Linked DNA regions of Homo sapiens: region 2 is linked to region 1. Evidence: fine-mapped expression QTL. Tissue or cell type: lung. Region 1 holds a variant in brackets; the other region holds the start of a gene. All regions are shown on one strand. Distances are between the middles of the regions.

Region 1 (5,504 bases):
GGCTCCGGGTGGATGGTGACGAGGGACGTGGCGTGGGGACGCCGTATCTAGGGTGCCGCTGTTCTTCGTCAGCACATGCTTGGCCGCCAAGACGCTGTCCCGGAGGGGCTGGGGTCCCGCGGCTGGGAGGGCGGCCGGGGAGCTGAGTGCCCGCCCCATCATCCGCAGGTGTGGTCCTGCAGACCTGGCTTCTGAACCGCTACCGCATGGTGCAGCTGGAGCCCATTGACCAGGTGGTCCTGTCCTACGGGGGCCTGCGCGGGGCCGTGGCCTTTGCCCTGGTGGTGCTTCTGGATGGAGACAAGGTCAAGGAGAAGAACCTGTTCGTCAGCACCACCATCATCGTAGTGTTCTTCACCGTCATCTTCCAGGTGAGGCCCAGCCCAGCCAGCCCTGGGGTCTCGGCCCCGCCCGCGAGGGGAGCCTGGGCCCGCACTTCAGGACAAGCATTTCCAGGCTCCAGACCCTAATTGGGTTTCATAATTTTAGTAACTAGGAGCCGTTTTGTAGGTTTTCACGTGGCCCCACTGGGGAGGAAGCATAATTGTCCTAAAAATGTTCTTCCCGGGCCTTCGCTGGTGGATGAGGCCCCGGGTGCTGCTTCCTCCTCTGCAAAGCAGGGGCGCGGGTTGCTGGGTGCCCGGAGAGCAGGGAGGGCGCCTGTGGGCCCCGGGGCAGGTGGCTCTGTGTGGTGCACCTGGCCGGGCCAGCGGGATGTGGGGGGCTGCCTGGCACCAGGGTCACGAGACCCTGTCCTCCAGGGCCTGACCATCAAGCCTCTGGTGCAGTGGCTGAAGGTGAAGAGGAGCGAGCACCGGGAACCTCGGCTCAACGAGAAGCTGCACGGGCGCGTAAGTGCGGGGCTGGGGGGCGGGGGGGGGGCACTGCGTGTTCCTCGGGGCTGGGCTGAGAGGGGAGAGGAGGCTGCGTTGGTCTGGGGCTTGGGGGGTGGCGGAGGGCACCGTGTGTTCCTTGGGGCTGGGCCAGGAGGGGAGAGGAGGCCGCCATACGTGCGGGGCTGGGGGGCGGGGGGGGGCACTGCGTGTTCCTCGGGGCTGGGCTGAGAGGGGAGAGGAGGCTGCGTTGGTCTGGGGCTTGGGGGGTGGCGGAGGGCACCGTGTGTTCCTTGGGGCTGGGCCAGGAGGGGAGAGGAGGCTGCGTCCAGGCCAGGGGCGTGGTGAGGGGGGCTGGTGGGTTCCTCGGGGCTGGGCCAGGAGTGGAGGGGCACCTCATGTTCCCCGGTTGGCCGCCCCGAGACGCTCATGTCTTTCTTCCCTTGAAAGGCTTTCGACCACATCCTCTCGGCCATCGAGGACATATCCGGACAGATCGGGCACAATTATCTCAGAGACAAGTAAGTGGCTGGGACGGCCCCGGCGGTGTCGCACAGCCCGGCTTCTGGAAACATCCTCCACTCGGAAGAACCAGAAGCCACATGCATAACAACTGTTTGAGTCCAGGCTTGGTCAGGGCTCCGGTGCCCCATGAGGCCAGGTGCCAGGTGTGCCCCGAGACACGCAGGTGCTGCGGAAAGGAGTTGGCGGCAGCAGTTGGGGCCACCGAGTGAGGGGACAGGAGCTGAATTCTCTGTGCTCCTTCCAGGGAATAGAGATGCCCTCTCATGTGGCCCAATTAATTCCAAATTGTTATGTAGGAATTGAAAATAAGGCAAATAGATTATTTCCTCCACGTCATAAACAGGGTTAGTATCAGTCAACATTTAAAATGATTTTGTCTGGCAGGGCTCAAGCCTGTAATCCCAGCACTTTGGGAGACTGAGGTGGTCAGCTCACTTGAGGTCAGGAGTTTGAGACCAGCCTAGCCAACATGGTGAAACCCCGTCTCTACTAAAAATACAAACATTAGCCAGGGGTGGTGGCGTGGGCCTGTAATCCCAGCTACTCAGGAGGCTAAGGCACAAGAATCGCTTGAACCCGGGAGGTGGAGGCTGCGGTGAGCCGAGATTGCGCCATTACATTCCAGCCTGGTGACAGAGCGAGACTTCGTCCCAAAATAAAAAAAAGAGTTTGTCCATTAAGGTGAAATCACCTATGTTTTATTATAAAAAACATGTGACACTTATAATAAACCCAGTAAGGAGCACATACAATTTGCCCTGGGTTCCCATTTTCTGAGCGATCTGTGTTTGCTTGGGGTGGAGGCACCGGGAGGTGTGGCCACGTGGCTTCATAAAGCTCAGCTGCGGTTCTCCGTGGCCACAGTGACTCTGCTCCGGGTACCCAGTCCCCGACTCCTTGGCCTCCCAGGGGCCATCCCGGGGGTCTCGGAAGGCACAGCCTCGGTTAGCTTTGACTTCTTGGTGTGGCTGAAACTCAGCCTGTACAGGAGAGCTGCCATTGCTGCCGCGGGGCCTGCCCAGGTGTGAGCACACAAGCTCACCCGGGCCCACCCTGTGCCCTGGAGGGCGGCTCTGGCGGCTGCACCCATGTCCAAGTGACAGGCATCACCTCCTTGTGCCCCAGAGTTTCCTCTAAGTCCGGCCAGGCCACCGTCCCTTCTGATCTGGATAACCAGCGAATACTCTAATTCCGTTAGGCTAAAAAAAACCTCACTCTGGTCAGCTTGGCTCCCACAAGTCTAAGGGCTCAGGGTGTCTGTCCGCCCCTGCCCTTCCTCCTGTGCACCTGAAGGTGCCCCCCATGTGGCCAAAGCCCCCTTGCCTGACCAGGCCTGACACCCACCGTGTCCTGAGCCACCCTCTGGAGGAGGCGGCATGCAGTTTCATATGCGTCTAACGGCCTCCATCCAACAGGACAGGCGGGAGAACGGCGGACGGCCTGGGCGTGTGGCAGGGGCTGCTTCCCTCATTTTAAACGCGCCTACAGGGTCACTATAGCAAACAAAATTCAGGAGAGAAGGGGCCGGGCCACGCGTCCGGCGGGCTCTAGGGCGCCTGTCACCTGAGGCTCACACCCAAGGTCTGTCCCTACAGGTGGTCCCACTTCGACAGGAAGTTCCTCAGCAGGGTCCTCATGAGACGGTCGGCCCAGAAGTCTCGAGACCGGATCCTGAATGTCTTCCACGAGCTGAACCTGAAGGATGCCATCAGCTACGTGGCTGAGGTAGCAGAGCCGCTTGCTCTGCCGGGTCGGGGCTGCAGCAGGCTCTGGCACTGGCTGTGGGTGCCATGGGGCAGTGAGGAGAGGCCCCTGCACCCGCGTCCCAAGGCCAGGCCCACCCCAGCAGTTCACGGGAGGCTGATGGGCCTTCTGATGCCCTGGGAATCCCAGGGGCTCTCGTGGGGTAAACTGAGTCACAGAGTCCTG[G/C]TGACTGTGGTGCTGGTGGGGGTGAGCGCTGAGGTCAGGTCCTAGGACCCCGAGCTCCCTTGCTTTCCCCAGGGATGGGAGCAGACGGTAAGCAGGCAGGCTGTTACGGGACCTGGTCCCAATACAGCCCTGCCTGCCCCAGCACACGCAGGTGCCCACAGGTGCACACGCACAGGCAGAGGGGCAGCAGCAGGGCCGTCTCCCGCTGTGGGCCGGCCATGGCTCTGAGGCTGCTCCAGCATCTCCCAGTCCACTATGAGCAGGCCTCTCAGCGTCTGCAGAGCCCCTGACTGCTCCAGAGACCAGAGGCCAGGCGCCCCACCCAGCCCCGAGGCCACTGCCGCCCTGGCTCCCGCACCTGCCCACTATGGCAGGTGGGCCTCAGCCTCCCCGGCCTGCCCTGACCTCCCCAGGGGCGCCCTGGCTGCAGGAAGTGTGCAAGGCAGGGCCTGGGGGCACAGCTGCAGGGATTCCGCAGCTCCTCCCTAAGGACAGAGCCCTCCCTAGCGAGCTTTGGTGCCCTCATCCAGCAGCCGGTCAGGGTGGGTGCTCTCGCCGGAGAGAAAGACCTGTCCTGCCAAACCCTGCAGACCCTCACACAGAGGGCCAGTGGGGGCCTGGAAACTCCATTCATTCAGACAGAATGATTCTGCCTCCACTGACGTGCATTCACCCCAGATGTGCCACCCGTGACTGGGGCCATGCCAAGTGGCAAGGCACCTCCTGGCAGAGGGCACGGGGGCCTGGGGCTGTCAGGAGGGCCAGCCAGTGCAGATCAGGAAGGAGGGCTCCTGGACCAGGCTCCACACAAACCCCCAAACCACAGGCCCGGCAAGCGAGAGAAAGCTCAGATACTCTGGCCCTAGGAGGCCTGGAGCCTGGCTGGAGGGTGGGAAGGGACAGTGGGGGCTCTGGCCTCTGGCGGGCTCCCCTCACCCCCACATAGGTGACAAGGTTGGCAGGCGGGCCTTGAGCCTCTCCCCCAACCACACCAGCCACCATCCTTGACCCACGACCCACGACCACAACCCTGGGCTCAGCTGCATGTGGGGAGCCTGTGGGCTCCTCCCGGCCACTCAGTAGCGGGGGTCCCCACACCTGGGGTGGCATCTGCCTGCCCAGTGTCCCTCCTGGCTCTCACCCAGGGCGGCTGCTTTCTCTCCCTGCGCCCCCCCACCCCACGGCAGGGCTCGGCAGGGGCAGGGGAAGTGGTGTGGGGAGCAGCCCCTCCGAAGACCCCACGTGCCCGGGTGCTGCACAGCCCTCGCCTGTGCCCGCCCAGAGTGGCAGTTAGCACCGTGGCTCCCCTGACCCTCACGTCTGTCTTCGTGGGGTGGCAGGAGCGGGACAAAGGTCATACAGAAGATGCTGGATTTAGAAGCAAAAGAGCAGGCGGAGGGCCCTCAGAACCAATGACCCTCAAATCCCCCCCGAGTGGGCAGTGAACTGGGGGCCGCATCTTCAGTGGGAACAGCGGCACCCACCTGACCCCGGGGGCTTCCCTGGGAGCATCCTGCACACTGAAGGCGGCACGGGTGCCCACCTGGCGAGGTCTGAGTGCAGTGAGCTGACGTTCCCTCCACACCCGTGCCCCTGCCGGCCCTGGGGACCCTGACTCCAGCCATAAGCCCACTCTGCCCTGTGCTCCTGCACAACCTCATGCTCTCCAGGCCCTGCCATCAGGCGGGTGGGGTCTGAGGACACATAGGCGGCCCCACTTCCATCCTCTGGCACTCAGCTGTGTGGCTTCTGTGCCCCATCGGGCTCTGCTCCGTTCTCTACCTGATTCAGTTCTGGACATGAGGCCAATGGAGTTTTAGGGTCTCCTGCAGGGACAGAGACCACTTCAATGATTCTGCAGTATCAACACTTTCCCCAGACACATCCCAAGTCCCAGGCAGCTTTACCCCTTCACACTCAGACCACTGTGTCCTCCCACAAGCATGACCTCTGCCCAGTTCAGGCAGCAGCCTGGCTGTGGCCTCAGACGGACAGGGGCTCAAAATCTGATCTCCTGGTTTTGGCATTTCCACCCCTCCCTCTGCAGCTGTGAGGCGTGAACCCGGGGCTCAGGTCTCAAGGCTTTCCCCGGGCCCCGAGCTCTGGGCGCTTCCCCCCAGGGCACACAATGGCAGCAGCTAGGGCTTGGCTGCTCAGGCCACTGACCGGGCTGCTTCCTGACCACAGGGAGAGCGCCGCGGGTCCCTGGCCTTCATC
Region 2 (6,364 bases), 37 kb after region 1:
CTCCTTCATGGTGAAAAAGCTGGTGGAATCCTCACACTGTTCATGCTAGGGGTGTTCTCTGTGCACTGCAGGAGTTGTTAGGACGGTAGAAATGTTAGGTACAAAACCTCCCCCAAACTATCAGGTGATCACAGTGGAGCTACAAGCAGAGCCTCTGAGATCATTAATCCAGGAAACCTCAAAGAAAGCTGAACTAGGATGAGGAACTCCTTGATAAGATAAACAAACCTTCGTAACACAAACATGCAGAAGTTATACCTTTAAGGGGAGAGCAGGGGCGTTTCACAGGCATGAGAGACATGGACATTGCGAAGATTCTAGATGTGGGTCCCAGACCACCCAGCATGTAGATGTCAGCCTCAAAGGCACATCTCTCCCCAAGACAGGGCTGGTTTCTCATTTCGGGAGCTTTCCCCCAGCACCTTGGCCAGGCCTGTGGGCAGCTGCACCAGGACCCTCAGTGAAGACAAATACAGCGTGGACAACTCCCCCGACCAGGTACCACAGCTGGAGGCCCAGCACAAGCCCCACAATTCCCACCCTATAAAAGTGACAATAGTCAGCCAGGCCCGGTGGCTCACGCCTGTAATCCCAGCACTTTGGCAGGCCGAGGCGGGTGGATCACGAGGTCAGGAGATCGAGACCATCCTGGCTAACATGGTGAAACCCTGTATCTACTAAAAATACACACAAAAAAATTAGCTGGGCATGTTGGTGGGTGCCTGTAGTCCCAGCTACTCGGGAGGCTGAGGCAGGAGACTGGCGTGAACCCCGGAGGCGGAGCTTGCAGTCAGCCGAGATCGCGCCACTGCACTCCAGCCTGGGCGACAGAGCGAGACTCCGTCTCAAAAAAAAAAAAAAGAAAAAAAAAGAAAAAGTCATTATTGTCTTGGGTATCCAAAACCCCATTTCCCCCTTTTTTAACTGTCCTAGAAAACATCATGCTTCCCTCCTTTATGCAGGCCCCGTGCAGACCACAGGTGCTCAGATGCCAGGCAAGCCTGCCTTCCATGCTCCCTCCACCATCGTCCTCCTCGGGGAGCTAACACAGCTGCTTGGTGAGCATCAGTCAATGAGGGAATCCGATACACCTGTTCCCCTTGACTTCAGCTGTCTGATTTTCATCTTCATGAATATTAAAAAGATTCACCTTCTCCTGGAATTTTTCATTCTCCATGCCCACATGCTTTCAGACACCTCTCTTCTCCTTTTTCATCTGGACCTACATTGCAACCTTTCCTTTCTCTTTATTTTCTGATTATGAAATTTGGCATACCAACGTAGAAAATCTGGACAGGACAAAAATACAAAGATGCCAGAGGCAACTCCCCTTAAATCCCATCATCTATGGGCAACTCCTCTTAAATCTTGCTACCCAGGGGCAACTTCCCTTAAATCTCACAATCCAGGGACAACTTCCCGTAAATCCCACCACTCAGGGGTAACCCCCGCTATATCCCACCACTCAGGGGCAACTCCCCTTAAATCCCGCCACCCAGGGACAACTCCCCTTAAATCCCGACACTCAGGGGCAACTCCCTCCAACAGGGCTTGTTTCCTTCCAGTTTTTTCCCTTTGAGTTTCTTTTAAAGCTAAGATTCCACTGCTTATATGACTTTGTAGGTGCACACTTTTGTTTTCTTATTTTGTTTGGACATTATCATCAGCATTTCCATTGACATTAAAGCCTGTATGATTTTGATTATAGGGCTGGATAATAACCCAAGAAGTGGACCCCCAGCCGCTCTGCTGGGGCACGCGGTGAGGTGGCTGCGCCCATCTTAAGGCTGGAGTGAAGTCTGTCACGCTGTGGGTGGAAGCCAAGGCAATGTGAGTGGAGAGCTGTGAAGCAGGGCTCGCCTTGGAGTCAGAATAAAGCTACTCATGTGGAAAAGGGGAAAATCTGGAGTTAAAAAACGCACCGCAGAGGCTTCCATCCCAGCCTGAAGACTAAAGATTTTGGGTCACAGAAGCCAAAGAGGAACTCAGAGACCATAAACAGAGACCCAGGTCCAGCCCCTACCAGGGCCTTTCTGACTGCCTTCCCCTGGCGCTGGCTCCGCTGTGAGCCTCTCCGCCGAGCGGGGGGACACCCTACTGCGGGGAACATCAGCACCCACGGAGACACCTGCGCCAGGGAGACACCTCTGCCGGGCAGACACCTCTGCCAGGAGGGACCCTTTACCGGGGGGACGCCTGCGCCGAGGGGAACACCTGTGCTGGGAGGCACCTCACGGAGGGGACACTCCGCTGGAGGACACCTGCACCTTGGAGGACACCTGCACCTTGAAAGCTTCCTAAAGGCCAGGAAGGACGCTTGTGCCCAGAAGGACACCTGCTCCGACGAGGGACACCTGGTCCGAGGGGGGACACCTGTGCCAGGAAGGACAACTGCGCCTGGGGGGGGACACCGTCAAGAGGACACCTGCACCAGGAAGTACACTTGTGCCTGGGAGGGACACCTGTGCTTGAGGGGACACTTGCACCTTGGAGAACTCCTGCGCCGAGGGGACACCTGCGCCAGGAAGGACACTTGTGCCTGGAGGGACATCTGCCCCAAGGAGGGACACCTGCTCCGAGGGGGGACACCTGTGCCAGGAAGGACACCAGCGCCTGGGGCGTGGGGGAAGACACTGTTAAGGGGACACCTGCACCAGGAAGGACCTTGTGCCTGTGGGGACACATGTGCCAAGGGGACACCTACGCCTGGGGGGGACACATGTGCCGGGGAGGACACCTGCGCCGAGGACACTCGCACGAGCGGGATACTCCACGGGGTCCGGAACGGCCTCCCCGCCCTCCAGGTCCCGGTCCGGCCTCCCCCTACGCGCCCCCGCGGAAGCCAGAGACAGGGAGAGCAAGGATGAAAGACGGCGACCACCTCCCAAGGACCCGCCGGCCGTCAGGACCTGCCACCGACTCACCCTCTACGGCTACGCCGCCGCCGCCGCCGCCGCCGCCGCCGCCGCCGCCGCCGCCGCCGCCCCCGCCGCCCCCTCCGCCTTCGCTGCCTCCGCCTCCGGGGTCCCGGCCGGAAGTGGACAGCGCGCGGGCACTTCCGCTTCCGGCAACGGCGCCGGAAGCACGGGTCCGGGCCCTCCCGCGGGGCGGGTACTCGTCTCCCGGCCGAGCGACTTCAGCTCGGGGACCTGCCCCATGGCCGCTCCCCAGCAGGACAGGGAAACCGCCGAGGTGGGGGGCTTCTTGTCCGTCCCAGCCCCCCCAACTCAGGCCCTCTCGCTGCCCCTGGCGACCACCGCGTGCGCCCTTCCCCAGGGCGGGCGCAGTCCTGGACGCCTCCGCCGAGCGTGACTGCGTGCATTTTCTCTCCTTTCCCTTCCCAACCTGCGGAGAGAAGACAGCCCCAGAGCCGCTGTCTCCATCCTCTGCTGATGCCTGCTGTCTTTATGTTGGCCTCGTCGTCCGCACTGCAGTGTGGCAGGGGCGTCCCTCGTTTCCCGCGGACTGAGGTGGGCGCCGGGCATTCAGTAAACGAAGAAACCAAAGCGGAGAAGGTTGGGAATCAAACGTCTGTCATACCTGCCACCAGCAGACAAGCGGCTTTGGGTACCTCCTGGACCCAAAGACGAACTCAGCCCCTCCAGGAGCGCAGTCATTGGCACCCTCGTGGGAACAATGCCAGTGGGATGGGTGGCCACCGGATGTTTCCGGGGCCCCTCAGAGGCCCAGCAGCGCAGGTCTTGGAGAATGAATGTGGGTCACTGGGCCGCGCTGCAGAGGGCCGGTCCTGAGTCGCTTCCTGGAGGAGAGGCCCATGGCCAGCACTTGGCTTCGCCTGGAGGAAGAAGCACGTGCTAAACCACGAGCGTTCAGGGTTTGTCTGTTTGATAAAAGATGCTGGCTTTGACACACCAACTGACAAAGTCTTTCATAGGTTGGAGCTGCTAGGTTGTGCCCCTGCCCCTCCTGAAAATTAGCCACACGAAAGGAAGGGTCTGGAAGGTGGCAGGGAAGCCAGCAGAGACCAGGGAAGTGGCAGCAGCATGGGGCAGGGGCACACAGGAAGGAGATGGAGCTTGCGGGAGCCCCCACTGCCACTCCGACAGGGAGCCCTGCCCCGTGCCCTGCTGATGTTGACACTGACCCCGGCTCTATTATTTCAGTTTTTCCTTGTAATTTCTGAAAATCTAGCAACAAGTTGAGCAATGAAAAAAAGTAAAAAAGTTAAAATTGTGTTAGAAATTATGACTGTAAAGAAATTTTGAAACTAATGAAGAAAAAATTGCCAAAATTGCCAAAGCTTTTAGGACTCTTAAAAATATAGTAACATTGAGTATTATGAACTAAAGACTCATACTATTATATCAGTGTCTGGTAGTGAATTTGGATGGAGGACTGTCTAGTAACTTCTTAACAAAACATTGATTAGAAGTCTTTCTTGGCGGGGCGCCGTGGCTCACGCCTGTAATCCCAGCACTTTGGGAGGCGAGGCAGGTAGATCATGAGGTCAGGAGATCGAGACCATCCTGGCTAACATGGTGAAACCCCGTCTCTACTAAAAAAAATACAAAAAAACTAGGCAGGTGTGGTGGTGGGCCCCTGGAGTCCCAGCTACTCGGGAGGCTGAGGCAGGAGAATGGCGTGAACCCGGGAGGCGGAGCTTGCAGTGAGCCAAGATCGCGCCACTGTACTCCAGCCTGGGCAACAGAGCGAGGCTCCGTCTCAAAAAAAAAAAAAAAAAAAAAAAAAAAAAAAAGGTATTTATTGGCTGGGCGCAGTGGCTCCTAACTGTAATCCCAGCACTTTGGGAGGCTGAGATGGGCAGACCCCTTGAGCCCAGGAGTTTGAGACCAGCCTGGGCAACATGGTCTTTTTGGTAGGAACCCCATCTCTACCAAAAAAAACCCCACAAAAATTAGCCAGGCATGGTGGTGCATGCCTGTAATCTCAGCTCCCTGGGAGGCTGAGGCAGGAGAATGGCTTCAACCCGGGAGGAGGAGGTTGCAGTGAACTGAGATGGCACCACTACACTCCAGCCTGGGTGACAGAGGGAGAATCTGTCTCAAAAAAAAAAGTTTCTTGACTTCTGTTTTTGGCAGACCATGTTCTGCGAACACCCAGGAGCACTGCTGAGTGCAAGCATCATGTCGATTGCACAAGTGGATTCACGAACAGGCAAGGACGTGACCAGGGACAAATGTGGGAAGGGGAGAGGACGTGAATCAGAAGCAGAGATGCTTGCCGTCCTACAGCAGGCAGGTGGGTGGGTAGGGTGCGAGTTCTGCGGCCCAGGGGTTGGGTTTTACACTGAAGCAGGACAGATGATGAAGCTAAGGCTCCCAGCAGGTGGGAGGTGGACGGCGACTCCCATGTGAAGCACAGATGTGCAAGGGATGCATCCTCAGTGAAAGCGTGGACTAGGAAAACAGCAACAGCCTGGAGACTGTTCCTAAACTCAGCCCTCGGCGGAAGCCAACCCAGGGTCATTGCTAGAGGGATCCTCCTCCACCTTGACAGGAGCAAACTCGAGGGGGAGGGAGGGGAGGGCACTGAAGCACCCACAGTCCTGACCCTGCTCTGGGAGAATAGAGACCGTGCTTAGCTCCTGCTTAGACCTTGTTAAATGCCCACATTAAGGTTAGCCACTACAGAAATAGAAACAGGAAGAGAGAAAATGCAGGCAACAGCACAGAGACTGCAGGCAAGGAGAAGATGAGGACCCTGTGTTGAAATGTATCAGTAATGAGAACACAAGTAAGTGGATTAGAAACAGTGAAACATTCATAGGCGAACATCTAAAGCATCAAGAAACAACGATTAGAACTGGAGGCTTTTCACACGTGGGTCAGCCAGGCCCGAGAAGCTGGTGTGGGGATATGAATATCAAACAACATGGGTTTTTGGTCAAAAGCCACTGTCAAAGATAGTTATTTTCCTAAGATGCAAAATGCATAAGCCATAAAGAATAAAATAGAAAAGTTGCTATATTAAAATCTTAAACTCTTGTGGGATATAATTTTTAAATCCTTAAGTGAAAAGCCAAGCCACAGACTGAGGGAAAACATTGTCAGCATCTGTAACTGACAAGAAAATTGCTATCCAGAATAAAAACAGAACTCCTGCAAATTGATCTAAAAGGGCAAACAAGTGCAGCAAGAAACGGGTAAAGGACAAGAGCCACTGGCTCCGGGGAATAAGCTGCTTCCCTCGGCCTTCAGGGAGACCTTGTCCCCACACCCTCCCCACGGGGCCCTGCTGAAGCCTCTGAGCCATGACTAGGGTGTCCGTTGACCTGACCAGACCATGAGCCATGACCCAGGCCCTGCTCTATTGTCAGCCAGACCTCACTGCGGCCATGCAGCCTCCCCCACTCGCTATTCAGCTCCAGCCGTCCATACGTCCT

Evidence for each region. PIP is the estimated chance that this variant, and not a neighbour inherited with it, causes the effect.
Region 2: it holds the start of EXOC3-AS1, and the variant in region 1 is fine-mapped to the expression of EXOC3-AS1 in lung (TOPMed, PIP 0.97). The same link has a PIP of 0.9 or more in caudate.

The regions. Positions count from the first base shown.
Region 1 is chr5:477,415-482,918 of GRCh38, reverse strand. It overlaps SLC9A3 (solute carrier family 9 member A3), which reads left to right. Exons shown (of 17, transcript NM_004174.4): 7 at 169-371; 8 at 762-851; 9 at 1,284-1,354; 10 at 2,954-3,083; 11 at 5,475-5,504. It overlaps SLC9A3-AS1 (SLC9A3 antisense RNA 1), which reads right to left. Exons shown (of 7, transcript NR_125375.1): 5 at 5,070-5,113; 6 at 2,703-3,137; 7 at 2,027-2,557. Among named protein-coding and RNA genes, the nearest start is that of SLC9A3-AS1, 6.9 kb to the right of the region's middle. RefSeq lists an enhancer at 4,586-4,755. The variant G/C (reference allele first, on the strand shown) is at 3,288.
Region 2 is chr5:439,851-446,214 of GRCh38, reverse strand. It overlaps EXOC3-AS1 (EXOC3 antisense RNA 1), which reads left to right and starts at 3,055. Exons shown (of 1, transcript NR_126522.1): 1 at 3,055-4,380. It overlaps EXOC3 (exocyst complex component 3), which reads right to left and starts at 3,039. Exons shown (of 13, transcript NM_007277.5): 1 at 2,925-3,039; 2 at 1-65. The coding sequence starts at 9. RefSeq lists enhancers at 2,375-2,464, 2,515-2,644, 3,415-3,524, 3,545-3,594, 5,178-5,237 and 2 more and a silencer at 2,945-3,334.